Linked DNA regions of Homo sapiens. The protein of the gene in region 2 purifies or fractionates together with the protein of the main gene of each other region. This does not show direct contact. Each region holds a gene or a part of one and is shown on either strand. Other genes may lie near its edges. The genes, in order: POM121, BSND, ACVR1B, NCAPG2, NCAPD3, SMC2 and SLC38A10.

Evidence for each region.
Region 1: the proteins of BSND (region 2) and POM121 purify together in Homo sapiens (affinity purification with mass spectrometry; one large-scale study listed by BioGRID and IntAct). This does not show direct contact.
Region 3: the proteins of BSND (region 2) and ACVR1B purify together in Homo sapiens (affinity purification with mass spectrometry; one large-scale study listed by BioGRID and IntAct). This does not show direct contact.
Region 4: the proteins of BSND (region 2) and NCAPG2 purify together in Homo sapiens (affinity purification with mass spectrometry; one large-scale study listed by BioGRID and IntAct). This does not show direct contact.
Region 5: the proteins of BSND (region 2) and NCAPD3 purify together in Homo sapiens (affinity purification with mass spectrometry; one large-scale study listed by BioGRID and IntAct). This does not show direct contact.
Region 6: the proteins of BSND (region 2) and SMC2 purify together in Homo sapiens (affinity purification with mass spectrometry; one large-scale study listed by BioGRID and IntAct). This does not show direct contact.
Region 7: the proteins of BSND (region 2) and SLC38A10 purify together in Homo sapiens (affinity purification with mass spectrometry; one large-scale study listed by BioGRID and IntAct). This does not show direct contact.

The regions. Positions count from the first base shown.
Region 1 is NC_000007.14:72,942,095-72,945,446, reverse strand, and holds part of POM121 (nuclear envelope pore membrane protein POM 121), read right to left. Parts: coding exon 1,925-3,352; intron 1-1,924. UniProt on the Homo sapiens protein: Essential component of the nuclear pore complex (NPC). The repeat-containing domain may be involved in anchoring components of the pore complex to the pore membrane. When overexpressed in cells induces the formation of cytoplasmic annulate lamellae (AL).
Region 2 is NC_000001.11:54,997,569-55,001,732, reverse strand, and holds the start of BSND (barttin), read right to left. Parts: upstream 2,801-4,164; 5' UTR 2,547-2,800; coding exon 2,370-2,546; intron 1-2,369.
Region 3 is NC_000012.12:51,975,699-51,979,198, forward strand, and holds part of ACVR1B (activin receptor type-1B isoform a precursor), read left to right. Parts: intron 1-628; coding exon 629-877; intron 878-3,500. UniProt on the Homo sapiens protein: Transmembrane serine/threonine kinase activin type-1 receptor forming an activin receptor complex with activin receptor type-2 (ACVR2A or ACVR2B).
Region 4 is NC_000007.14:158,631,805-158,635,304, forward strand, and holds part of NCAPG2 (condensin-2 complex subunit G2), read right to left. Parts: intron 1-3,500. UniProt on the Homo sapiens protein: Regulatory subunit of the condensin-2 complex, a complex which establishes mitotic chromosome architecture and is involved in physical rigidity of the chromatid axis.
Region 5 is NC_000011.10:134,199,968-134,203,467, forward strand, and holds part of NCAPD3 (condensin-2 complex subunit D3), read right to left. Parts: intron 3,232-3,500; coding exon 3,175-3,231; intron 2,939-3,174; coding exon 2,849-2,938; intron 1-2,848.
Region 6 is NC_000009.12:104,111,309-104,114,808, reverse strand, and holds part of SMC2 (structural maintenance of chromosomes protein 2), read right to left. Parts: intron 3,229-3,500; coding exon 2,995-3,228; intron 1,494-2,994; coding exon 1,334-1,493; intron 846-1,333; coding exon 728-845; intron 119-727; coding exon 1-118. UniProt on the Homo sapiens protein: Central component of the condensin complex, a complex required for conversion of interphase chromatin into mitotic-like condense chromosomes.
Region 7 is NC_000017.11:81,278,308-81,281,807, forward strand, and holds part of SLC38A10 (solute carrier family 38 member 10), read right to left. Parts: intron 2,427-3,500; coding exon 2,302-2,426; intron 1-2,301. UniProt on the Homo sapiens protein: Facilitates bidirectional transport of amino acids. May act as a glutamate sensor that regulates glutamate-glutamine cycle and mTOR signaling in the brain. The transport mechanism remains to be elucidated.

The DNA.
Region 1 (3,352 bases), on a different chromosome or scaffold from region 2:
GCAGCTGAGCCAGACAACCGAGTCTTCATGCCTGGTGCCCCAGCTCAGCCTGCTTCTCCCACCCGCTAATGGCCACGCCAGGGCAGAGAAAAAGCCCCCCTGCCCCGCAGCCACCTCGTGGGCCTCCTGACCATCGCTGCAGAGGGGAGTACTCTGGGGCCCCCGCCTCCTAGCGTACCTGGGTTGGCTACCTCCTCTGTTCAGGCCTTTTCCCCCAGCCACCGTCCCCTCCCCTCTGAAGCCTGGTTTGTCCGTCCCGCGTCTTTTGTGATGCCCCGTGGTCCCCTCCCTTCCCCGGCCTTGCCCTGACTGGCTCTGGCTGCCTGCCCGAGGCCCTCTCTGGCAGCCCCTCTGCAGGGATGGCTGCTCTCAGGGCTTGGCCTCCGGCCCGGACAAGAGGAAGCTCCCTGTGCTCCCACGCTGCTTCCACACTGTTTCTCTTCCTTCCCTAAATACCGTAACTCAAGTTCAGATCACTTTAATCTGCCATGTCCTCATGTCACCTGTCAACTGCCAGGTCACTCCCTGATTCACAGAGGACCCTTGGCTCACTGGCTTCCTTCCCATCACCACTCACGGTGACTTCGCCCTGTGAGGCTGACTGATGGTCCTCTCAGCCCCTCAACCCTGCCACCCCCATGACCTCCTCTCCCCGACCCCTGCCACCACTCCTGCAGCCACACTGTCACCACAACTGCTCCGGCTCCCGAATCTCCTGTAGGCACCACCCCTCCTGCAGCTGACTTCACCCGCTCTCCACTCCTGCACCCCCTGAGCTGCATCGGGGCACTGACCCGCTGCCCCTCCTGCTGTGCTTGCTGGGGTCTCCATGGCCGGGTGGCACCAGCTGTCCGCTGACCTTAGGTCTACACCCACAGTGTCGCTGGGAAACACATGCCATGCTAACTGGCCTCACTTTAACTTCACAATCACAATTTTCCAGCCCACAAACTGCCTGGAAACTGATCACACTTTTTAATATGATGTTCCTTTCCCCCACTGTCCAAAATGACTATTTCAAAAGACCCCTTTTTTTATACACTTTATCCTGACCCTCTCTCTCCCAGATTTTCTCTACTTCACGAAGCAAACAGAAGCCATGGGATCTACATTCATCTTCCACATGGGAGGAACCATCACTGCATCCTTCTGCCTGATTCTGCAATGGTTTTCCTGAACACTTAAGACCCAAACACCCAACCCTGGCCACAAACAATCCTTGCCTCTTGGCCTCCTTCCACACCACTGCTTTAGCTCCTGCCCTCCTGCCATGCTTGTCTTTGTTCTGCTCTTCAACATACCAAACATGTTTCTGCCTCTGGGCCTTTGCATGCGCCATCCTGGGCCTGAAAGGCATGTCCACTTGTGCTGTGCCCACCCCCATATTCAGCTTACGGTTTGTTTTTTGAGACAGAGTCTTGCTCTGTCACCCAGGCCGGAGTACAGTGGCATGATCTTGGCTCACTGCAACCTCCAACTCCTGGGTTCAAACCATTCTTGTGCCTCAGCCTCCTGAGTAGCTGGGATTACAGGTGGGTACCACCACGCCCGGCTAATTTTTTGGTATTTTTAGTAGAGACAGGGTTTCGCCAAGTTGTCCAGGCTAGTCTTGAACTCCTGGCCTCAAGTGATGCACCCTCCTTGGCCTCCCAAAATATTGGGATTACAAGCGTGAGCCACTGCGCCCAACCTTCAGCTTACAATTGTTAACTACTCAGAAGGCCTTTGACCAGTTAAATCCACAATGGCTCCTCCAGTCATTACTACGTTAGCAAAACATGTATCGTTCCCTGGCATCTCACTGAGTTCTATATTCAGTGCCTGTCTCTTCACTGCCACAGCATAAGCTCCCCGAGACCACAGGCTTCGCAGGCACAGCTTTTCAGTGTCCGGCCCGGTAGCCCAAGTCCACGCCCCTCCTTACCTCCAAACACAGGTTTGCTCTCAGTTGTGCTGCTCACGTTGAAGGCAAACGGTGTGCTCTGGCCGGTGGTGCCCAGGGCGTTCTGACCTAAGCCCCCTGCGAAGGGGGTGGAGGTGGCTGTGCTCCCACTCTGTCCTGCTCCAAAGCTGAAAGCTCCGGTGGTGGTGCTGGAGCCTGGGGTGGCCACATTGATCCCAAAGCTCCCACTGCCAGCGGGGGCTGCCGAACCCCCAAACGTGAAGGGTGATGGTGTTGTGCTGCCAAACACCGAGCTGCTGCTCCCGCTGCTGGCGGTCTGGGTGGTGGCTCCAAAGCCGGAGCTGGTGGCTGCACCGAAGAAGACAGCAGTGGAGCCGCCAAAGGCGGGCTGTGAGCTGGCGGGAGCGCCGAAGGCCGAAGCCGTGGCTTTCAACCCAAACGCCGAGTGCGTGGCACCGCCAAAGATAGGATGGATGGGCGTAGGCACGTACGCAGGCACGACCTTGATCATGGACGGAGGTGCAGGTGTGGGTGCAGCAGCCGGGGCTGCAGAGTTTCCAAAAGTGAAAGAGCTGCCAAAGCTGGGGGCAAGGGCCGGCTTGGCGGCCCCCGGTGGCTGCCCCTCAGCGGCCCCAAATGCGGGCTGGGGGTTGGCTCCCGGATATGATGGGAGCGGGGACTTGGCGCTTGAGCCAAAGGGAATGTTGAACGTGGGGGTGCTCGTGTTACTGAACGTCAGAGTGGGCTGGCTGCTGGTGGCCGGGGCGGAGGTGGCGAGGGTGCTGCCAAAACCACTAAAGTCGGCAGCGCTGCTGCTGGTGGCCGTTGGCACGGCAGTGTGCAGGGACTGGCTGAAGGTGGTGACTGTGGTGGTTGTGGGCAAGGCAGGAGGTTTGCCAAACTGGAATATGGAGCCCATGGCCGGGGTGAAGCTGGCAGCAGAGGCCTGGGGCGCCCCGAAGAGGAAAGGCTGTGAGGCGGCAGTGGCGGTGCTGGTCGTGGTACTCACACTGCTGCTGCTCACACTGTTTATGCCAAAGCCAAACGCAGGCTTCGAAGCAGAGTCTGTGGATGGACTGGCAGAGGTGATGGGAGCCACAGCAGAGGTGGCGCTGGCCAGGCCAGTGAAGAGCGGGGCAGTTGTGGTGGGAGCAGTGGCGGGAGTAGTTGTCTGCTTGAAGAAGGGAGCAGGCAAGGGCACAGATGCAGGTGGCCCCATGCTGCTAAAGACAGGCTGGAAGGTCGGGGCTGTGGTGCTGGTGGTCGTGGGGAGGGAGGAGCTGGAGGGCGCTGTGGCTGTGACTGAAGGGCCAGGCGGTGTGGGGCCTTCCTTCTCACTCTTGGGTGGAGCCGTGAAAATGGGCTTGAACATGGGAGGTGCTGAAGATGCAGCAGGGGCGGCAGGGCTGGAAGGTGAGGTGTTCTGTGTTCCAAACAGGAAGCTTTGCT
Region 2 (4,164 bases):
CATCAGGCAGCAAATAGCCTCTCCCACTAGACCTCTAGCCCCTAAAAGACATGGACAGCTTAATGCATGTTGGTATTGGCTACCCCTCACCCCTATATCCTAATTAGCTAATTCTATTCCCTTATATTTATATCTCCCCATTTATCAAAACTTTCCATAGGTCTGGCACAGAGAGCCACGGGGAGGAGGCTGAGGGGAGGACAGGCAGGAGCACTGCAGGCAGCGTTGGCCCAGGCACCAATGAGACCAAGCAGGATCCAGGGAGCTTCGCCTCTAGAGTGTCTCCCTGGTTTATAAGGTGCTTTCCTCCCTTCCCTTATTGGAGTCAATTTGTGCTGGCTCTACCAGCCTGCATCTCTGAAACACACACTCACACACACCTGCACTCATGCAGAGGCCCACCCAGTGCCGCAAATACCAATCCTCAATCCTAAGAACAATGCCTTCACATATGTTCCATGGCAGGTGTGATGCCAGGTCTCCCCCAACACACACACACACACACACACACACACACACACACACACACACGATCCCACTGTGTTCTCCCAATCAGCCGTACAAGGCTCAGAGCTGAGGGGGAGGGACTCTTTCTGCCAAGGTCACAGAAGTGGGACATGAAGGAGCAGGGATTTGAATCTGGGCCTGGAGGTTGCCACAACATGTGCCATTTTCAGCCCACCACGCTGCCTCCACAGCACGTGAACCCATGAATCTATCAACAGTTACTCATTAATACCCAGCAATATTCCCTCCTCCCCTCCCCTCCCCTCTACCGTCACTCCCATCAGCCTACCAACCATCCCAGAGCCAGCTCTATTTAAGAGCGGGGGCAGGAAGGATGCTCCTCTCCACACCTCTGCCATCCCTCTGCTGTCCCCCAGGGTCCAGCCTCCTCACTGGGAGAAGGATTATAATAGCAGTGGTGACATGAGTGGCTTTGGCCCCAAGGACTTCTCCCAGTGACCTCTGCTCAAGGAATTGCACAGACAGAGGCAAGTTGACTGTAAACTGCCTGCTAAATGACTACAAACCAGCCCAGACCGCTCCAGCACTGAACAGAATGACAGCCCAGGGTTGGCCCGTGGAGGGGGCAGGGCTGGGGAGAGCCGGCCCAGGCCCCAGGGAGCCATCCCCCTTCTTCCCTGAAACCCTGAGCACAGCCACCCAGGTGGGAGGAGAGGAGGTGTGGGGGTTGCTGAGGACTGCCTGGACCTGGAGCCCTAGATATTAGGTCCAGCAGGGCCCCCAGATATACCCCCTTTCCCACCCCCCCCTCCTAACTCACACAGTGTACAAATGAGGAAACTGAGGCTCAGAGAGGAAAGGGGCTTGAGCAAAGTCTCCCAGGCAGTAAGAGACAGAGCCCAAGTTAGAGTCCCTATTTCCCTCCTTTTCTCCCTGGGTCTGTACCTGACCAGCTGTGTGACCTTGGAAGTCACCCAGCCTCTCTAGGCATTGAAGATTCGCAACTCCTGGCATTTCCATTCCACAGAGCTGTTGGGAGGATCAGTATGGGTAACAGTGGTAGCCCTTCATCTATAAATAACACCTTACAGTTTACAAAATATTCCTATATCTTATCTCTTCTCTGATCTTTATAATGACCCTGTGAAGCTCTGTGGAAAATAGGGGCAGGGATCTCATTTGCAGATGAAAAAAATGAGGCTCAGAAAGACAAAGGTCATAGAGAGTTTGGAACAGGACTTGAACTAGAACTCAGGACTCCCAAACCAGTGCTCTTCCCATCACTAAATTACACATAAGGCTGAGAATACATGAAGACTCTAAAGGATACTGCCCAGTGCATGCCACCAAGGTTAGACCTGACCTACCCTGGAGCTCTCAGTCGCTCTGGGACCCAGAGGTAGAAGACCCAAGGTGAAGGGTGACGTGTAAGTCACACGCATCTGAGCTCCAAACCTTGCTCGTTAGCTGTGCAGCCTCTCTTTCTGGACCTCAGAAAGGCTCAGAAGGTGGAACTACAGAAAGCACCAAAAGGCTTAGGATGAGGGCTGAACTGCACCCTGAACGCAGGAGTGCCTGGCAGGGGGTCAGCGCTCATTAGCTTTTGTTTCAAGCACATGGTGTGTTGTGTTTGCTGTGTCTATACCATAGCTTCCGGCTCAGGGCTCCAGATCCAGGGGCCTTCTGATCAACCCTTAGGCTAAGGGATGGATGGATGGATGGATGGATGGATGGATGGATGGATGGGACAGACGCTCAGGAGAGCAGAGAGAAGACCGAGTCAAAATGAGAAGAATGAAAAGACAACTAAAGGATAGGGGGTGAGGCATGGCATACAGGCACAGTGTCCAGCCCTCCTGGCCCCAGCTGACCTGGCCCCACCCAGCCCCACTACCACCTACCTTGGGGTAGCACTGGCACATGCTCCAGATGATGCCCCCGATCACCATGACGCTGCCCATGGCATAGAAGGTGCCGTAGACCTGGGGCCGATCATGGCTCATGAGGAACGTACCGAGGGCCAGCAGGAAAAGCCCCAGCACAATGAAGCCGATCCGGAAGGTCTTCTCGTCAGCCATGGCTGCCTGGCCAGTCCCTGGCCTGCACACCCCCGGGAGAGGGGGTGGCTGTAGTTCAGCCTAAACACCGAGACAGGCTTACACAGGGAGAGAAGACACTGAAATCGCTGCAACTCAAGGCTTCAAGGGAGAGCAAGATCCCTTTCAATCCCGCTCCAGTCCCTGGGCCCACCAGTTCAACAGGGCTGGAGGCGGCTCGCTTCAACGGACCCACACCCAGCCACCTTTACTCCTTGCCCTCTCACCTTCCCTCTGGGCCCGGCTGGCCTGGAGTGTGTGTGTGAATCTGAGCGAGGGAGCACACAGGGGAGGGAGAGTGGGAGGTTACCGGGGCTGGGCCCCAGCCAAGGCTTTGACATCACCTCATTTGCCTACTGTGGGGTTGAGCTGGGTGGACAGGCAGCCTCACACCTTCCAGCTCTAGAAAACAGGGTACAGTTCTGCAGCTGAGAGCTGTTAGAATGCTATTGGAGGATTCCAGGATCCCACAGGCTGGCATTTCAGAATCCTGAAGAATTCTACACTCTTCAAGGACATGTGCCTATCCAGGGTTCAGGAATAATGGCCCATATGTACTGGCTGGTGACTATGTGCAGGGCACCATTCTAAACATGTTACAGCTATTAACTCATTGAAGGGAACCCAGTGAAGCAGCTACTACTATCCCCACTTTACAGAGGACCCTCGGGCACAGACAAGTAACTTGCCCAAGGTCACACAGCTAAAGATGGCAGAGCTAGTGGGATGTGAAGCCAGAGGCCGTGGGCCTAGCCACGGCGTGATACTTCTTAACTGCAGCTTGAGGGTGAAAAGCGTGGCTCTGGTGGCAAGGCAGGCTGCCTGGGTTTGGATTCTGGCTCCTCTACTGTGGGGCAGTGTGGTCATGATCAGGTTACCTCAGTTTCCTCCTCTGTAAAATGGGAATAATAATGTACCTCCCAGATTTGGTGCTGTCTCCAGGCCTGGCCTCCTTGGGTTCCTCCATCCCCTTCACATTCACACGCTATGCACCACCCAGTTGGGCTTTCAATGAACTGCTCCCCACCCACCCCTAAGGCTCTCGGAATTAGTGCCCCTGCAGGGTGTGAGTGACTGACAGTCACTTCCTCCATTTCCTTGCAGCCTGATCTAGGAAGATGCCTTCCTAAGAATAACACTAATGAGGCATTTTAGTCCTAGGGACAGGCTGATGGAAGAAATCAGATTCCTTTACAGGATTACAGGAAAATGAGGACCATCGGTCTCTACAAGAGAATGTTCACTTGGCGTTTACATGGGGTTAAATCGCCGATGCAGGATAAAAGGCTTTCAATGGGCTCCCTGACTTGCTGGGCTTGGGGATTTCCTGTTGGCGGTCATCACCTTCTCCCCTCCTGCCAGCAGGGCTGCCCTTGTTCCCTAACCCCACACCTGTGCTCACAGCTGCCCCTCTAACTAGACGTCCTTCTCATAGGCCCTTTTTCCAACAGGGGTTTCTCCTTCCTCACACCCACCATCGCCAGCCCTCAGAGTCCAGGTGCACTTGACAGTTCGCAGAGGAGGTCCTGGAGGGAGCTCAGGGGCCCTGGCTGAGCGATGGCTGAGGGGCAGGAAAGGGCTGAGTTATCAGGTCATGTCC
Region 3 (3,500 bases), on a different chromosome or scaffold from region 2:
GTTAGTCCCAGAGGTGCCCGCAGTGTTTAGAGTAGTGGCTTAGCAGCCATAGGCAGCGGTGAGGAGTGGAAGAACCAGGCAGGGATTCCCACGGGAGGATGTGGGACTGATCCAGAAAGAGATGGCCCCAGAGCCGAGCAAAGGTGACTCCTCAAGGGAGGATGATGGTTAGATGTGAGGAGGGACCAGAATAGGAAAAGGCCAGTGACCAAAGCCGAGAAACACCACATACCATCCTTTTGCAAGCCTACCATTCAGGAGGCATTACTGTGGAGCCCACAGGAAAAGGAGAGAAACTAAAGCAGAGCTTAGAGGAGCTGTGGGAAGTTAAAGGGCAGAAACAGGCATCTGTGTAGGGGCCTGAGGCGGGGATAGTACCACGAAATGCGTGAGGTGACAAAGTGGGTTGTGGGTTTGACTGTGGAAAGAGGTGCCTTAACTAAAGAAGTTGGGCATTTGAGAGCATCTAGGCAGCAAGACTAGCCCAGAAGATTAGAGAGATCAAGGGAGCCTGAACACATCGACAGGGAAAGGGGTCTTTTTCACTCTTCACTTTGAGGGGGGTGTTTTTACTCTTTCCCTTGTTTTTACTTCTCATTCTTTCCCTCTCCTCTCTCACTTGACTCAGGTCACCTCAAGGAGCCTGAGCACCCGTCCATGTGGGGCCCGGTGGAGCTGGTAGGCATCATCGCCGGCCCGGTGTTCCTCCTGTTCCTCATCATCATCATTGTTTTCCTTGTCATTAACTATCATCAGCGTGTCTATCACAACCGCCAGAGACTGGACATGGAAGATCCCTCATGTGAGATGTGTCTCTCCAAAGACAAGACGCTCCAGGATCTTGTCTACGATCTCTCCACCTCAGGGTCTGGCTCAGGTACCAAGTTCTTCAGGGCATCATGTCTGTGGTTGGCTTTCATCAGTTTCCCAGCAGGATAGAGTGCTTGTAGAGAAGGCTGGAGGCCCTGCATTTGTTTCTACCAGCATTGAGTCATTTGGTTTCCTAGTTCCCCTTCTTTTGGAGTCTGACGTGTAATAAGATAAGATAATGGGTTCACAGAAAATCTCTCATTCCGTGGGATTCCCAAGGTCTAGTACACAATTATCCACTACAGAAGTCCTGCCTCTCTAAGCTTTGCAACTGTACGTACATCTATTAAAATTCAGCTGGTCCCACCTGAGCAGTGGAGTGCTCAATTTCAGGGCCCCTTTTGAGAAACAGGAGTGTGCCAGATTCCTGTGAGGTGGTGACAGCTAATCATTGATCTCTGAGCAACCACAAGGGGAGTTTAAGGACATCCAGTAAAGCTTAGAGTTGGGATTTGGTGAATCATTGACTTGTACCAGTTGCCCAAGGGTTTTTGGTGGGGGTGAAAATAAAGGCAGTGTGGGCCTCCAGCATAGCATCAGCACTATTTCCTGTACTGCCTTTTGTTGACCAAGTCTTTCTCAGATGAGGGAAATGAACCAAACACTGGACCTTGGCATAAGACGAGAATTTAAGATAAAGGAGCTCGGGGTTGTTTAGGTCTCAGGGTATAGCTCAGCTAGCTATTAAATGTGAACATGAATGCAAAAGAATTTTTTTACTTACTTATTTATGTATTTATTTATTTAGAAACAGAGTCTTGCTCTGTTTCCCAGGCAGGAGTGCAGTGGCGCAATTTCCGCTCTCTGAAACCTCCACCTGCCTGGTTCAAGTGATTCTCCTGCCTCAGCCTCCTGAGTAGCTGGGATTACAGGAATGCGCCACCACAGCGACTAATTTTTGTATTTTTAGTAGAGACAAGGTTTCGCCACATCAGTCAGGCTGGTCTTGTGTTCTTGACCTCAAGTGATCCGCCTGCCTCGTAAAGAATTTTTTTAATGAAGATAAACCATTATTTTTGTGACAATGGTATTGCATTCCTTTTTTTTTTTTTTTTTTTTTGTTTTAAGATATGGTCTCGCTCTGTTGTTGCCCAGGCTGCAGTGCCATTGTGCAATCACAGCTGACTGCAGCCTTAACCTCCTGGGCTCAAGAGATCCTCCACCTTAGTCTCCTGAGTAGCTGAGATGTCAGGCATGTGCCACCAAGCCTGGCAATTTTTTTTTTTTTTTTTTTTTTTGTGGAAGGTTTCACTTTGTTGCCCAGGCTGGTCTCAAATTCTTGGCTTCAAGTCCATTCTTAAAAAAGAAAAAAAACATCCACAAAGATCACTGTTGCCATTCTAGCTAAAACGCAGAGGATCTTATTTGTGAGAACTTTGCGTGTTTTTATGTATGTTTCCTTGACGTGGGACAAGACTGTTGTTCTGTGGGGAAATTATGCCATCAGTCATGCCCAGACATTCTGCTTGACACGGGAGTACTTTGAGCTGTGACATCTCCTGAATTTCAGTGGCTTTGCTTTTATTAAGCTCTGCAGTAGAGAGCACCAAAATGATGGATATATTTAAAAGCTGCATATTTTTAGAAACAGCAAAAATCTAGGGCTTGTTCCTTGTTGAAAGAGGTAGGGCAGTGGTTAGAACCTCCTGGCTGACTGTGGGAATTGATTTGCTGCTAGAGGAGGGTAGATTGGGTTTTCCAAAGTCTTTTTAAGACCCAGACCAGCTGAAACAAGGGAAGGGCCATGGTAGTTGTTTAGTCGTCTGTGGTAAAATGGTTAATAACTATTTCCCTCTGAGTGGTTTAGTATATTCTTCATTCAGAATATGCAGAGCTTCCAAGGTGTTAGGTTTCTAATAATGTGGTTTTTAAAGTAGTAAGTCCATGCTGCTCATATGACTTTCAATTCATTTAAATAAGTATATACTGAATACCTTCTGGGTGATATGGTTTTAAACAGATTAGAAAGAGCCTGACCCGGCCAGGCGCGGTGGCTCACGCCTGTAATCCCAGCACTTTGGGAGGCTGAGGTGGGTGGATCATGAGGTCAGAGGAGATCCAGACCATCCTGGCTAACATGGTGAAACCCTGTCTCTACTAAAAATACAAAAAATTAGCCGGGCGTGGTGGCGGCGCCTGTAGTCCCAGGTACTCAAGAGGCTGAGGCAGGAGAATGGTGTGAACCTGGGAGGCGGAGCTTGCAGTGAGCCGAGATCACGCCACTGCACTCCAGCCTGGGCAACAGAGCGAGACTCCGTCTCAAAAAAAAAAAAAAAAAAAAGGCTGACCCAGGATTGGATCAGAGAGACAGGAATTGTTGGGAAGAGTCTCACAGAGGAGGGCACATTTAAAGGAGTCTTGAGGCCGGGCAGATCACATGAGGTCAAAAGTTTGAGACCAGCCTGACTAACATGGTGAAACCTCGTCTCTACTAAATACAAAAAATTAGCCGGGTGTAGTGGCACACGCCTATAATTCCAGCTACTTGGGAAGCTGAGGCAGGAGAATTGCTTGAACCCGGGAGGCAGAGGTTGCAGTGAGCCCAGATCATGCCATTGCACTCCAGCCTGGGCAGCAAGAGCAAAGCTCCGTCTCAAAAAAAAAAAAAAAAAAAAGGCCAGGCACGGTGG
Region 4 (3,500 bases), on a different chromosome or scaffold from region 2:
GGTTTGCAACCATGCATTTAAAAACAAAGTTGAAATAATCTATAGATGTTTCATTAATTGTTTCTTGTATGTAAAATGGAGTCAGAATCCCCACAGCAGTCAGGACACATGGCACTGGAGCACAGGCTTGGGTTGACCGTGGACACCAAGCACTGCCAGGCAATGAAACGTGCTCACTGGGCAGTGTGCTATGCTGGTGAGCAAACAGGACGTGTGCTCTTCCTTTCCAGCACCCACAGTTCTGAGCCTATTTCTCTATTACACAAGAAAACAAGATAAATAAAAACTATGTGACCTACCAAGATACTCTACTACCATGACATTTACCTACTACCTCTAATAACCTGAAGCCTTTAGAAAAACCTCACTTTCCCACTCCCCTGCCCTACATCCCTGTCCCTCAAGGCGAGACTCTTCCTCCTCACGTCCTCCCCAGCCCCACCTAGGCCGCGGCTTTGGCTGAGAGCACTGAGTACTTTTCCTTGCCAGACGTTGTCCTCACTTCCCTGGCAGTGTGCCTATTTTAAGAATCATTATTAGACAGGTAGCATATCACTGTTCCTTCAAATACACATATTTACAAAGTGCGTGGCTCACCATGGCTTCCCTTTTTACTGTCCCACAACTCCTGCATGGCTCCAATGCTTGTTCCATTACAGGGCACTCCAAAGCAGTCTCCTCAGAGAAGCAATAAAGAAAAGCTCATCTCTGAATTCCTCCTGGACACAAATATCTACCTTTCACTCCAAATGAATCTCAGCGAGATTTAAAACTCTTACAATCCTATTGTCTTCCTGTGTCCAGCACTGCAAGTGAGACTCATGTCTACCTGGTCTTCACCTTTGGAGACAGACTGCTGTCTACCACAGCCCCTGTAATGTCAATGCCAGTCACATGCGTCATTTTACATTTTCCAGTAATCACATTGAAACAGGTCAAAGGGTACAATGGATCAAGACCTTGCTTCTTTTTATTTTTTTAAGCAAAATTCATCTTAATATATTTTATTTAACCCAACATATCCAAAATGCTTCAACTTGTAATCAATATAAAATTATTTATGACATAGTTCACATTCTCTTTTCCATACTGTCTTCAAAACCTGCTTGCACTTTCTATGAGGGCCACACTCAGCTTAGACTCACCAGGTTTCATGTGTTCAGCAGCCACTGTATTGGCCTGCATGAATCTAGAAAAATTTTAAGATTTTCTCTTTATTCCTGGAATTTAGGAATCTTATCCATAATTATTTAGCTGTGATTTTTTTTTTCCATCAATCCAGAATGTAGTGAAAGAAAAAAGGGAATCTGCATATATTTCTTTAAGCTCTGGGGAATTTTTTCCTATCGTTGTTGAATCACTGCTTCTCCTTGCTGTTAGGTCTCTCGGGCCTTTTCCCCCAAGTCTATCCCCACCCTCGTGACCTCTCCTCGTGAGTATTTATGGTCTATGTTCTGAGACATCTCTCCAAATTGACCTTTCTGGAATTTGACTATCACAGGAACCATCTCTGTAGTGTGTCTGTGACACTTGAGCTCTAGACTGTCCTTTCGGGGTTACAGTTGACTCTTCTTCAAAGACTCTTATTACTCACCCACCACTATCACTCTGGAAGCGCCTGGGCCACCCTCTGTGTGGTTATTTCTGCCTGTGTTGAACCAGGGGTGAGGGCACAGCTATGTGGAGGCTGCCATGCAGCGACACAGGAGACTCTGGGTGCCCCACAGCCCCTTCACTCTCCCAGCCTCGCTGGGCCTCTACTGGACCTGCTGCCTCAGGGTCTCCTGCCCATTCCCTGAGTCCCCCAAGGAGAAGAGAGTGCTCTCTGTCCACAGACCAGGTTCCGCCCACCTGTCAGCCCAGCAACTGCCTGGCTCAGCAGCAGTGCAGCCAGAGGCAAGACAGAGGAGAACAGGCCCAGGAAGTCATGAACCCTCCAAAATCTAAAATTAATTTTTTTTTTTGAGACAGGGTCACGCTCTGTCACCCAGGCTGAAGTGCAGCAGTGAGGTCACAGCTCACTGCAGCCTTGACCTCTCGGGCTCAAGCAATCCTCCCAGCTCACCCTCCCAAGTAGCTGGGACTATGGTGCACACCACCACACCCAGCAGATTTTTTTGTATTTTTTGTAGAGATGGGGTTTCACCATGTTACCCAGTCTAGTAGTGAACTCAGCTTAAGCAATCTGCCCGCCTCAGCCTCCCAAAGTGATGGAATTACAGACACCATACCTGGCCTAAAATTAATTTTTAATTACTCAAAAATAATATTGTCTCCTTAAGTGAACATGAATTTAAAAATACTTTAGAGAAAAATGTTACGTTAAAAGTACAGTTAACCCTCACTATCTGTGGGAGATGTGTTCCAGGACCCCCCAGATACTAAAATCCACAGATGTTCAAGTCCCTGGTATAGTGTTTGCATATAGTCTACCCACATCCTCCTGTATGCTTTAAATCATCTCTAGACTACTTATAATACCTAATACAAGGTAAATGCTATGGTAATAATTGTTATACTATATTGTCTATATACTATATCGTCTATATTGTTATACTATACTAATAGTTGTTATACTATATACTATATTGTTTATCCTATACTGTTATATTATATTAGGGAATAATGACAAGGAAAAGTCTGTTCATATTCAGTACAGGCACAACCATCCATTTTTGTCCCAAATATTGTCAAACTATGGTTGGTTGGATTTACGAACGTGGAACCCATGGATACGGAGGGCCAAGTGTTCTCATTTACCAGGTAGTAAAGAGCTACTTACACTGACCTAAGTCTAGACTGGCAACAAGAATGACTCTTTATCGTTATCCTGTAACAGATAAGCTAACTGAGGCAAAAGTGGTAAAGCAAACTGCCCATGACCACTCAGATGGGAAGGGCAGTCTGGGTTTAAACCCAGGCCATTTTTCTCCTGCTACTGGAACACTACTGCAATACAAATTTACTCATTCTTCTATTACCTGAAGCAAGAATTGAACACACTATGTAAATCAGAGAAATAAGAACTACTAAAGAACAAATGAAGAAAACAAAATGAAGGAATTTTAAAGTTGGAAGGGACAGTGACAAAAAGCTTAGACAAAAAGCTCCCTGGGCCAGGGTTCTCCTGATATGTAACAAGACACACAGACCAGACCATGTGCAAGTCCCCTCAGCACTAACGTCTGTAAAATGTGTCAAACACGAGGACTCAAAACTTCGCCACCTTTCCTTCTATGTCAGGTTAGGATCACATGTTGGTGATCACAGCCACAAGAAACACAGCAGAATCAATTTTTTGAGAAAAACCGTAAGATAAAAAGACAGTGTCTGTATTTATTAAAGGGTGGTTTTACACATGAATACTTTTAAATTATCCACACCAATTTCATTGGGTATGGATGATGGAAGCATACCACTAAATAAGCTATAAAAAGCATCCAGCCTCAAATTCGTTTAAAAAAAAAGACTGTTAAAATTAAAGCAGAATAAAATGAATT
Region 5 (3,500 bases), on a different chromosome or scaffold from region 2:
TTTACAAGGGTGCCAAGACACTCACAGGTGAAGGAACAGGCTGAAAGAAACAGTGCTATGTCAACTGGATAGTCACATGCAAAGGAGTGAAGGTGGACCCCCTATATCACACCATATTCAAAAATTAACTGAAAATTGATCAAAGACCTAAATGTGAGAGCTAAAACTATAAAACCCTTAGAAGAAAACACAGGAGTAAATCTTTGTGACTTTGGATTACACAACGATTTCTTAGCTATGTGATACCAAAAGCATGAGTAAAAAAAGAAAAAGATAAATTGGACTTCATCAAAATTAAAATGTTTTGTGCCTCATAGAATACCATTTGAAAAGACAACCCACAGACTGGGACAAGTCTTTAAAAATCATATATCTGATAAGGTATATATATAAAAATAACTCTTTCAACTCAAAAATAAAAGATAACCCAATTAAAAAATGGGCAAAGAGCTTGAATAGACATTTCTCCAAAGAAAACGTATGTATATGGCCAATAAGCCTATGAAAATTTACTCAACATCATTAGCCATTAGGGAAATGTAAATCAAAACCACAAGCAGATACCACCTCATACCCACAAAGATGGCTAAAATAAAAAAGACAGACATGGCAAGTGTTGGTAGGAATGCAGAGAAATAGGATTATCATACGTTGCTAGCAGGATTGTAAAATGGTGTGGCCACTTTGAAAAAGTGTGGTGGTTCCTCAAAATGTTGAATATAGAGTTACCATACGACCCAGCAGTTCTCCTCCTAGGTATACACTCAGAGGGAATGAAACCACACATCTATACAAAAACTCATACAAGAATACTTACAGCAGCATTAGTCACAATAGCCAAAAAGTGAAAACAACCCAAATGTTCATCAACTGATGAATGCATAAACAAAATGTGGTGTATCCTTATAACTGACTATTACTCAGCACAAAAAGGAATGAAGTACTGATAGATGCTATAACATGAATGAGCCTTGAAAACACGCTATAGGTGAAAGAAGTCAGACACAAAAGACAACACAGTACATGACTGCATTTATGCGGAATGTCCAGAATAGGCAATTTTTTTTTTTTTTTTTTGGACAGAGTCTCGCTCTGTCAACAGGCTGGAGTGCGGTGGCGCAATCTCGGCTCACTGCAACCTCCACCTCCTGGGTTCAAGCGATTCTCCTGCCTCTGCCTCCTCATAGCTGGGACTACAGGTGTGTGCCACCACGCCCAGCTAATTTTTTGTATTTTAGTAGAGACGGGGTTTCACCATGTTGGCCAGGATGGTCTCGATCTCCTGACCTCGTGATCCTCCTCCCGTCTCGGCCTCCCAATGTGCCAGGATTACCGGTGTGAGCCACCACGCCTGGCCCAGAATAGGCAATTTTATAAGGAAAGAAAATTACTGGTTGCCAGTGTTAGGAGGAAAGGGGCATGGGGAGTGACTGCTAATGGCTATGGGGTTTATTTTTCAGCTGATGGAATGTTCTGGAATTAGTCTGTACAATCTTGTGACTATACTAAAACAACTACATTATACACTTTCCATGGTGAACTTTATGGTGTGTGAACTCTGCCTTAATAAGAAAAAGCAAAGAGAGCAAAGTGCATCTAAGTGACTATACAAAATTTTTAATGTACAATTAATGCCAACAATATATGTCCTTTCAGCTTATGAACAATGCACTGGAAACATGGGCTCTTTGCGTCCCCGAACTTTCATAATTTTTAAGCATCATTAAATCACCTCAACTTGATATTGCTTGAAAAAGTCTGTGCCACCGTAAATCCGTAACCTGTTTAGACGAAGTCTGGAGCCAACACAAACATTCAGCATTTTTCCAGAGTACATTTTCCTACCACATTTAGAAAACCTGTTTATTATAAATGTAGTTATCGCTCTGAATTGGAGTAATACATGCTAATATCTAGCCTCCTGAACCCAATTTCACGCTGACCTTCTAGGCTGAATAATAAAAGCAGTAATGTAATCATCCTCAGGGCGCTTTCTGTGCATCTCGGCACCTATCTCAGTGTTCCGCATACATGTGTGCACAATTGTATATATGAGAACACTTGTGTGCACAAGCACCTGTCTCTCCACTGATCCTTAAGAGATGGAGCTCTGTCTCACAGACTTGTGCATCTCCAATGCCTGGAACGCATCGGGAAGGACCAGATCAAGGTTTATTGAATAAATTAATAAACCCAATTATGTAATTAATCCTCTACGTACATGCTCTTTCTCTCTCTTATCTGTGTCTCTCTCTCTTTAAATCACTTTCTTAAATGTTGTTTCTACAGACTTTCCCAACAGTCGTCTGGGAAAGATGGGAGGGTGTTACAACCGGAAAACGACAGGTATACCCCTAGATCATGCAGCTATTTAGTAACTAAGCTGGTACAAAAAAGCAGACTGCCCTGCAGTGTTATTTTCATTTTTTAATTTTTTAAACAGACTGTCGCCCAGGCTGGAGTACAGTGGTATGATCAGAGCTCACTGTAGCCTGGAACTCCTGGGCTCAAGCCATCCTCCCACCTCAGCCTCCTGAGTAGCTGGGACCACAGGGGCACACCACCACGCCCAGCTGATTTTTATATATATTTTTTAAGAGATGGGGTCTTGATGTGTTGCCCAGGCTGGTCTTGAACTCCTGGGCTCAAGTGATCTGCAGGCCTCAGCCTCCCAAAGTGCTGGGATTATGGGATTACAGGCATGAGTCACCACGCCCAGCCAGCTGTTTCAACTCTTAGGGGTGAATAAATCAGAAAAAAAAAAAAAAATCCAAGGTTTTAGACTCTACTTACGGTTGTCTGAAATCCAGCAGTATTACCTATCTGACAGTGATAAAATCTGACATACCTCCAGATCCAACTGTTTCACCACTGCTGTCTATGTTGATCTCCCCTGAGGGTTCGGAACGGTTAGATGTCTGCCTTTGGTAGGAAAAAGCTTTAAAAAAAAAATTACAGTCATTAAGCTAAAAATGTGTTATACTTTTAATAACATTAGCAGGGCATGTTACTCATTTAAGTTACAACATTATTACTGAAATGAATTTCAACCTCTCTCATGAAAAAAGTACAATGTTAAAGCAGGTAAATAAGGAGGTAAGAAAAACATTTTAAATATTCCACAAATTTTTAAAAGATAATCATTCAATATTTGAAAATGTATTGATCCATTACCTGATGAATTTCTCAGTAAGGTACCAGGGTGACTCTCTATTACAGAAAACGTAGGACCTAAAAACAAGAAGAAAGATAAGAAGGAAGAAGTCAGTATCATAAACTGAGTAATTATCCACGGAGGAATCAAAATCAAGATAATTAGGCTCAAAGACAAGGCAGACAGATTCTAAATTGCTGACAACTGATAACGTTCTCCTTGGGTATGCATTGAAACGGAGATTCATCCTAATACGACCAATGCCCACCAATGCAAAGCAACAGTAAAGGTAGCCACCAATGTCACCTCTCAGATATGAACATCTGAAATACTTTTAAAAGGCCTT
Region 6 (3,500 bases), on a different chromosome or scaffold from region 2:
GTAGAGTCGTTCTCCAGCCACTAATTCTAAAGCTGTGGTTGCAGAAGTGTCTTTCACACTAATCAGAGAAGCCACAAGTCCTTTCACACAATTTCTATTCCAGTTCTTCTCTGGATCCCTGAAATACAAAAGTTGACAAAAATTAATCTTAGATAATAAAGTAGAAAAAGTTATACTTTACTCATCAGGAGCTCTTTTGGACAACACATTAAAGTGAAATGAAAGTAGAATCAGCAAAATGGTTTTAACAAACCAAAAATTTTAAAATGTCCCAAATGACTAGCCAGCTGTTGTTTTTAAATCACAATAGATCTTTCAGTATGTTTCAATGTAGTAAGAACAACTCTGATGTTCTAATCCCTATAATACATATGATTACTGTAAATATTCCATAAAAAACCCACATAGCAAAACAAATTATAAGATGTAAATGTGGATATTTAACATTAATGATACAGTAACTCTGAAGACATTTTGAACTGAGATTAAATTTCCCTCATTTTAAGATTAGTGGCATCATTAGCCATTAAATTTCACAAGAATTTCCCTGCCAACATTTAAAACATTTCAACAAATGTTTAAAGGAAAAATACCAATGAAAGAAAAGCAGCTTACAACAAGTTTCATACAAAAATCTTGGTTTCGACAAAATTTTCACACTGCTTCCAGCTTAAATAAAAATGTCTTGATTATTACTATGTTAAAATTCAAGGCTTAAGTCTCTTACTTGTATGCAAATCGAAGATTGGGAAATCTGGCTAATAGAGCTTCATATGTTTCTTTCAATCTACCAATATCACGAGACAGCTGCCTGCGCTTTTCCAAAAGGCTTTCCTCTTTATTTTCTGAAGGATAAATCATAATAAATTAAAACCAAGTTTTAAAAGCTCACTCTACTGTTTTAAGGAAAATATTAGCAACCACTATTTCCAAAGCATGCAAAAAATACAAATTTCTGTAAGTATTAAAAAAGCATGCTGAACCTTCCTATTTCTATCCACTGTCAAACAGACATTATTTCCAACGGCAAATAACACAATTTTCATTCCAAAAAATAACATACAAACTGAATGCCTAATGTAGAAATACACAAATGACATTTTTGAGCTTTCAAATGATTGAAGCAGGAAATTCTCAATACTGAGTTCTCAAAAATTCAAGAGTTGTTTTATAATTAGGTATTTTTTGACGATATTTACAACACTTCTTATACTAATGCTTGTTAATAGGCTAAGAAATGTTTCCTACTTGCTTGCGTTCTTTATTTAAATTAGCTTTTTATCAAAAATCACTACCTCCTCATGATCTGATTATCATGTTTTTAAAGGCAAACCTTCATAATTTAGCTTTTTCATTTCAGCTTCAAGTTTTTCTTTAAGTCTTTTTACAGCTTCTAGAGCTTCTTGATCCTTCCTGTAGCCACTATCCATCTTCTTAACTTCAGCTTGTTTATTCTTTAATTCCTGTTGAGCATGCTTCAACTTCATCTGAGCCTGTGGCAGAAAAATGCAACAGACCATAGGATGTATGAGGCAGACAGTGCTAGTAATTAAATGGCCGAAGATTCAGATTGGTTTTACTAAGAGACCTTAACCTTCAAAGTTTAATTGTTTGGTCTCTTGGATTAGTATTTCAACAAATTAGTCATTTCCCAGTATTTTCTCCTCAAAAAACTACTCAAAGTATAAACTAATATATGATTAATATGTAAAAGAATTTGAAATTTAAGTCCGTATTTTTAATAAAATATGACATATTCAAATTGAAGGATTATATCGAATAACTGTCAGTAGCTGGTAATTAAAAAAAGAACGCTAGAAATCACAACTCTCGTTCTTTTCCTTTCCGCTTAGTTGTTCATATTTGTATGTGTATATATTTGTGAGTGCTATCTAATAACAGTAAAGAAACTGAATTGAGCAATAAGACGTAAGATTATACAGGAAAAGAAGCTAAACTGACAGAGAAACTTAAATGCTGAGTCTGATAATTAAATGCTAGAACTATTTAAATTACATGTGTCAGGCCTTCAAGAATTTATACACTTGAACACTGCTTCTTAAAACTATGAACTAGTATTCTAAAACCTAGATGGGGTTTTAGATGGGGGTATCCTCCAAAACTGTATAATGATGTATTTTTCCCAGTTCCCTTATAAAATAATAGACAAACTGAGAGTAGAGTACTTTAAAGCTTTTCTACTATTGAGAGTTCTTATAAATTTGTGACTATCATCTGTCATGCCTGAATGAAAAAGTTGCAAATATATAAAGAGAAAAACCTGAGGATTAACGCATAATCACACACATTTGTGTACATGTTTTAAAATCTGTGTCTTCCATTAAAAACAAAACAATGATGTGCCTGTGTACATGTATTTTTTCTGCTAGCAAAATTCTTATGTTCATAGGACTGTAAGTTGCACTACTATGTAAAATCTGAGAAACATTATAATAGACTGACAAGACTTTTAAGATTATGAAATCAGAGTAGGGAGAGCAGACTAGAATGTGGCTACATGTGAGGTAGAGATACTTCCTAAAAAAATGTAAAGTTTGAGAAACAAGGTTTTAAGAACTAGGTATGGCAGGCAAAGCAATGGGGAGGACAATCCTGTTTTCCTGTTAAAGCTTAAGACTTCAACATTATGTTATCAATAAAAAATAAAAATAGCCAAAAAGAGACAAGAATAAATGCATTAATCTCGAAAATTCCACACAATGCTGCAAACAGAACAAAGCATTTATTGCACTTACATACCGAATTAAGATAATTTATGTAGTACAGCATCTTCACAAATTAACATCACCAATATTTAGCAATCAACATATTTGAATTTCGCTGCATTAGGCATTAGAGTTGCAGAATAAAGTAAACAAACAAGTTCCTTGAGACTGATTATTTTCAACATTATGTAACAATTGCCAAAGCATAACATGAAAAGAAACTTCTTGGAAAAAAAAGCAATCACATAGTGCTAATGTCTCTATTTACCTGTTTGGCTTCTGTCTGAGCTTTACTTATATCATTTTTACAGGCCATCATTTGACCAGCAAGAGTTGCTTCTGCTCCATCTTCATTACTGGACAGGCCAGCGGAAACAGCATTGAAGTGCTGCTGTGCAGCTGCCAGAGCTTCAGCATCTTTATTACTTGCTTCTTGAAGGGCATGCAGTCCATCTGTTATCTTTTTAACCTCTTTTTCCTTTGCTGCTAAAGTTTTTGAGTCCTTTAGGAAGAGTTTCAAATGGAAAAATATTATATTTCAGGAAAAACACCCACTTTCTTATACGCATACCCTTATGTAATAAAATTCCATAGCAATTTGGAGTGAGCATAATAAAATAATTTAACCATCATAACTTTATAAATACTGAATTATCATTTTGAAATTCACTCTCAGTTTTTAGAATAAATATAACTCTTATACTACTGGTTCATTCCATGTTATAAATTAAATCCATGAGACATTGGGCTAAATAATAATTGCAGATTTAAACA
Region 7 (3,500 bases), on a different chromosome or scaffold from region 2:
CGGGAGGTCGAGGCTACAGTGAGCTGTGATCGCATCACTGCACTCCAGCTTGGGTGACACAGCAGGACCCCATCTCCAAAAAAAAGAAAACCCAGCAGACTGACAAGTGAGAAGGTCCTGCCAGCAGCTGCTGGTGTCCCGTTGCCCAGGTCCTAGCACACCATCCCATCAGGCCGCCCTCAGCATGGAGTGCCATCAGCAGCAGTCAGGGGACCCCGCAGGACATGAGCCTTCCCCTCGGCCCAGGCTAGAAGGGAGCTAAGTGGCCAACGCCTGTGCACACAGCCCCAGGAGGCTGGCAGAGAATCAGGAGAAACACCCAAGAGGTCTCCACGGCCCTAGACCCACAGCTACAGAAGAAGGCCATGTTGCGGCATGAACTTCCCAGTGCTAAACTGTCCTCTCGCCACAGCTGAGTCCACACCAGGGAGTCTTGGCTTGAGGGGACCAGCGTTGGTGCCCCATGACACGTGCTTACCCCCAGCCCCCAATACACCCTGTGGGGAGTGACCCCCAAGGAAGCCACGGACACTGTGGGAAGGGGTGTCCCACGCACACGGGGTGGCCAGGGTGGAAGGCCAAGCCCCAGGCTCCTCTCCAATCCTGACCACCTACCCCAGGGACCCCCGGGATCATCCCTGGAAAGAAACAAGGTAGGAGCCACAAAACCTCCTGGCCACCTGCAAAGGAGCTCCACAGATGGGGGACATGCTGAGCGCTGGCCCATGGCCCCAGACGGAGCATCCCTGGCCCGCCCACCTTGCAAGGCAGCCTCTGAGCCTCAGGGCCTACCAGAGTCAAATGGAGCCATCCACATGCAGCTCTTGGGTGTGTGCCCCTCTGCCCTACTGTGAGGATGGGGACCCTGGTCTCCAGATAGACCCTGACCTCCAGGGCCTCCTGGGCTCAGTGCTGCCCGGCTGCTTCTCTGGGCCTAGGACAACCATTCTGCATAACCAGGTATGCATTTACCAAAAACGGCCAGATAGTGAAGGCACAAGGGAGACCTGGCCCCAGCTGGCATCCAGGCCAATCACACAGGCAGGGGGCGCGGCCCGCCACCCAACAGGGACAGGCACTCTGGTGCAGTGACGCTGTGGGAGGGAAGAGATGTCTCTGCTCTCAGAAAACATTCCTGGGTTCAGAGGTGGGGAGGTCAGCACGGCGGCCGGCACAGGGGTGGGGAGGTCAGCGCAGCGGCCAGCACAAGGAGGGATGTCCCTGCTGGGGAGAATGTCAGGTGAATCCGTGGGCCTGCACATCCTCAGGGCGGGACAGAAGGAAAGCTGCACTTGTTGAGCCGCACGCTCCAGCGCTTCAACCCAGCACCTGACTCCGGAACCAGACCCGAACGAGGTGCACCGGCTGCTACGTGGCCACCACCAAAAAGCCCCAGCTGCAGATTTATTTCTAAATATGCAAACACGCAGACACAAAGGGCAACTGGTAACTAGGTACGTGGCGGAAGAATGCGGCTTCTGTCACCGATCATAATGGGATATTAAACAGCAAGACTGGGGCGCGTTCTGGTGGAGATGGAGCTGCCAAGAGAGACGCTAAGTGGGAAATGACGATTTGGATCTCGCATGTGGGTGTAAACACAGCGGTATGAACAAATTTCATCTGTCACATTAGTTTACGATTGGCTCAATGCATGCCCACTAACGCTACAGGGGCCGCTCTGCCAGCCCCCCGCATGCCGATGGTCTTTTCCCGTCTGCGCCGGATTTACGCCTCTCTTTTCAGCCGGTTACCATGTTCCAACCGGGCACGAATCACTCGCTCTTGTCATTTTGGTGGAGAAGGTAATGCTGCTGGAATTATGGAAGAGCCCGATCCACATTTACAGAGCCCTGCGTGCCAGAGAGAAAGCAGGCTCGCGCGCACATGCAGGCCTCCAAATGCATCCAGCAGCCGTCTGAAGTCAATGTTTGTGCCATTTCCTTTTAAATATTCTCAGAACAGCTAAATTCTGGCGAAGCGCTCGACTCTGTGCAGTCAGATGGCTGGGTTGCTGCTGCATCCCCCACAGCCAATGCTCTGCTTGTGGGGATCTGGCAAACCAGGGACTCTCACCAGCTAGTCCCAAACATGTCCCAGGAATGAAGCCGATTTACCTCCCGATTAAAATATAACTATCTCCCTCAACCTGGGGCGGGAAAGGTCATCACTGAACAAGACATCACTCTTTAGCAGCCAGCAAAGAGCGATCACAGTAAACGAGAAAGAGAGGGTCCCGTCTCCCAGCAGCTCGCCCTCCCCGTCACAGAACTCCACCACAGACCACAGCAGGACACTTACGACTGGCAGGCGAAGGACATGCCGAAGATGGGGATGCAGCGGAAGACGCCCTCCCAGCGGACGTAGCTGACCCGCCGCAGCCACTGCCCACTGAAGAGGCCGTGCTTGAGAGAGGAGAGCACGATCTGCAGAGGGAGAGGGGAGAGAGCACGGGGCAGGTCAGGACGCAGGCGGGACTCAGCATCCCGGCCCACGCGCCGCTAGGAAGGAGTGGCAGGAGAGTGCAGCTCTTCCCACCCACATCCCAGCCCCCCACCACCCTGTGCCGCCCTGTGCCGCCTTGTGCCGCCAGCTGGAGGCAGGGAGACCCCGCGCCTTTCTGGATTCCCAACCCCTGCCTCAGAGCACCCTGGTTCATCCCGCGGGCACCAGAGCAGCTGCTCTTGCAAGGGGGCTGCTTGGCGCAGACGGGAGGAGACCACTGAGCATGCATGGCCCCAGTTTCCGTCGGTTACAGAGGCTGGTTTCCCACGTGGGCAGGTCCCTCCCCATCTTGTACTGTGTTAGACATGGACATTTTCCAAAAGACTGGCCCACCAGGACGCGGCTGTCTCAAGAGTAAAGAGGTAGCTGCCACTGGGCTGGCCCTCACTCGGAGAGCTGAGGAGCACTGGAGACCCTGGCTTCAATGACCACCTGGCCTCGTCCTGGTGCAAACCCGCTGTGAGACACCCAGGTTCCAGCCACTCAGGAAGGGTCATTTCTGACCTTGCCAGGGAACAGGAAGGTCCCAGGGGCTCGGGTCCTGGGGCTCCTATGGGCAGGGGCCTGGCAGAGAATGGAGGGTGTGCTGGGGGCTCTGGGTGGTATCCGTGTTCTCAGTGCCAACTCCACAGCTGGCCCCTAGTCCATCCTATTATAAATTCTCATTTAGAAAAATAATAGCGGCCGGGCGTGGTGGCTCATGCCTGTAACCCCAGCACTTTGGGAGGCTGAGGCGGGTGGGTAACAAGGTCAGGAGTTCGAGACCAGCCTGGCCAAGATGGTGAAACCCCTTCTCTACTAAAAATAAAAAAAATTAGCCAGGTGTGGTGGCGGGCACCTGTAATCCCCGCTACTTGGGAGGCTGAGGCAGGAGAATCACTTGAACCCAGGAGATGGAGGTTGCAGTGAGCCGAGATTGCGCCACTGCACTCCAGCCTGGGCGACAAAGTGAGACTCCGTCTCAAAAAACAAACAAACAAACAAACAACAATAGC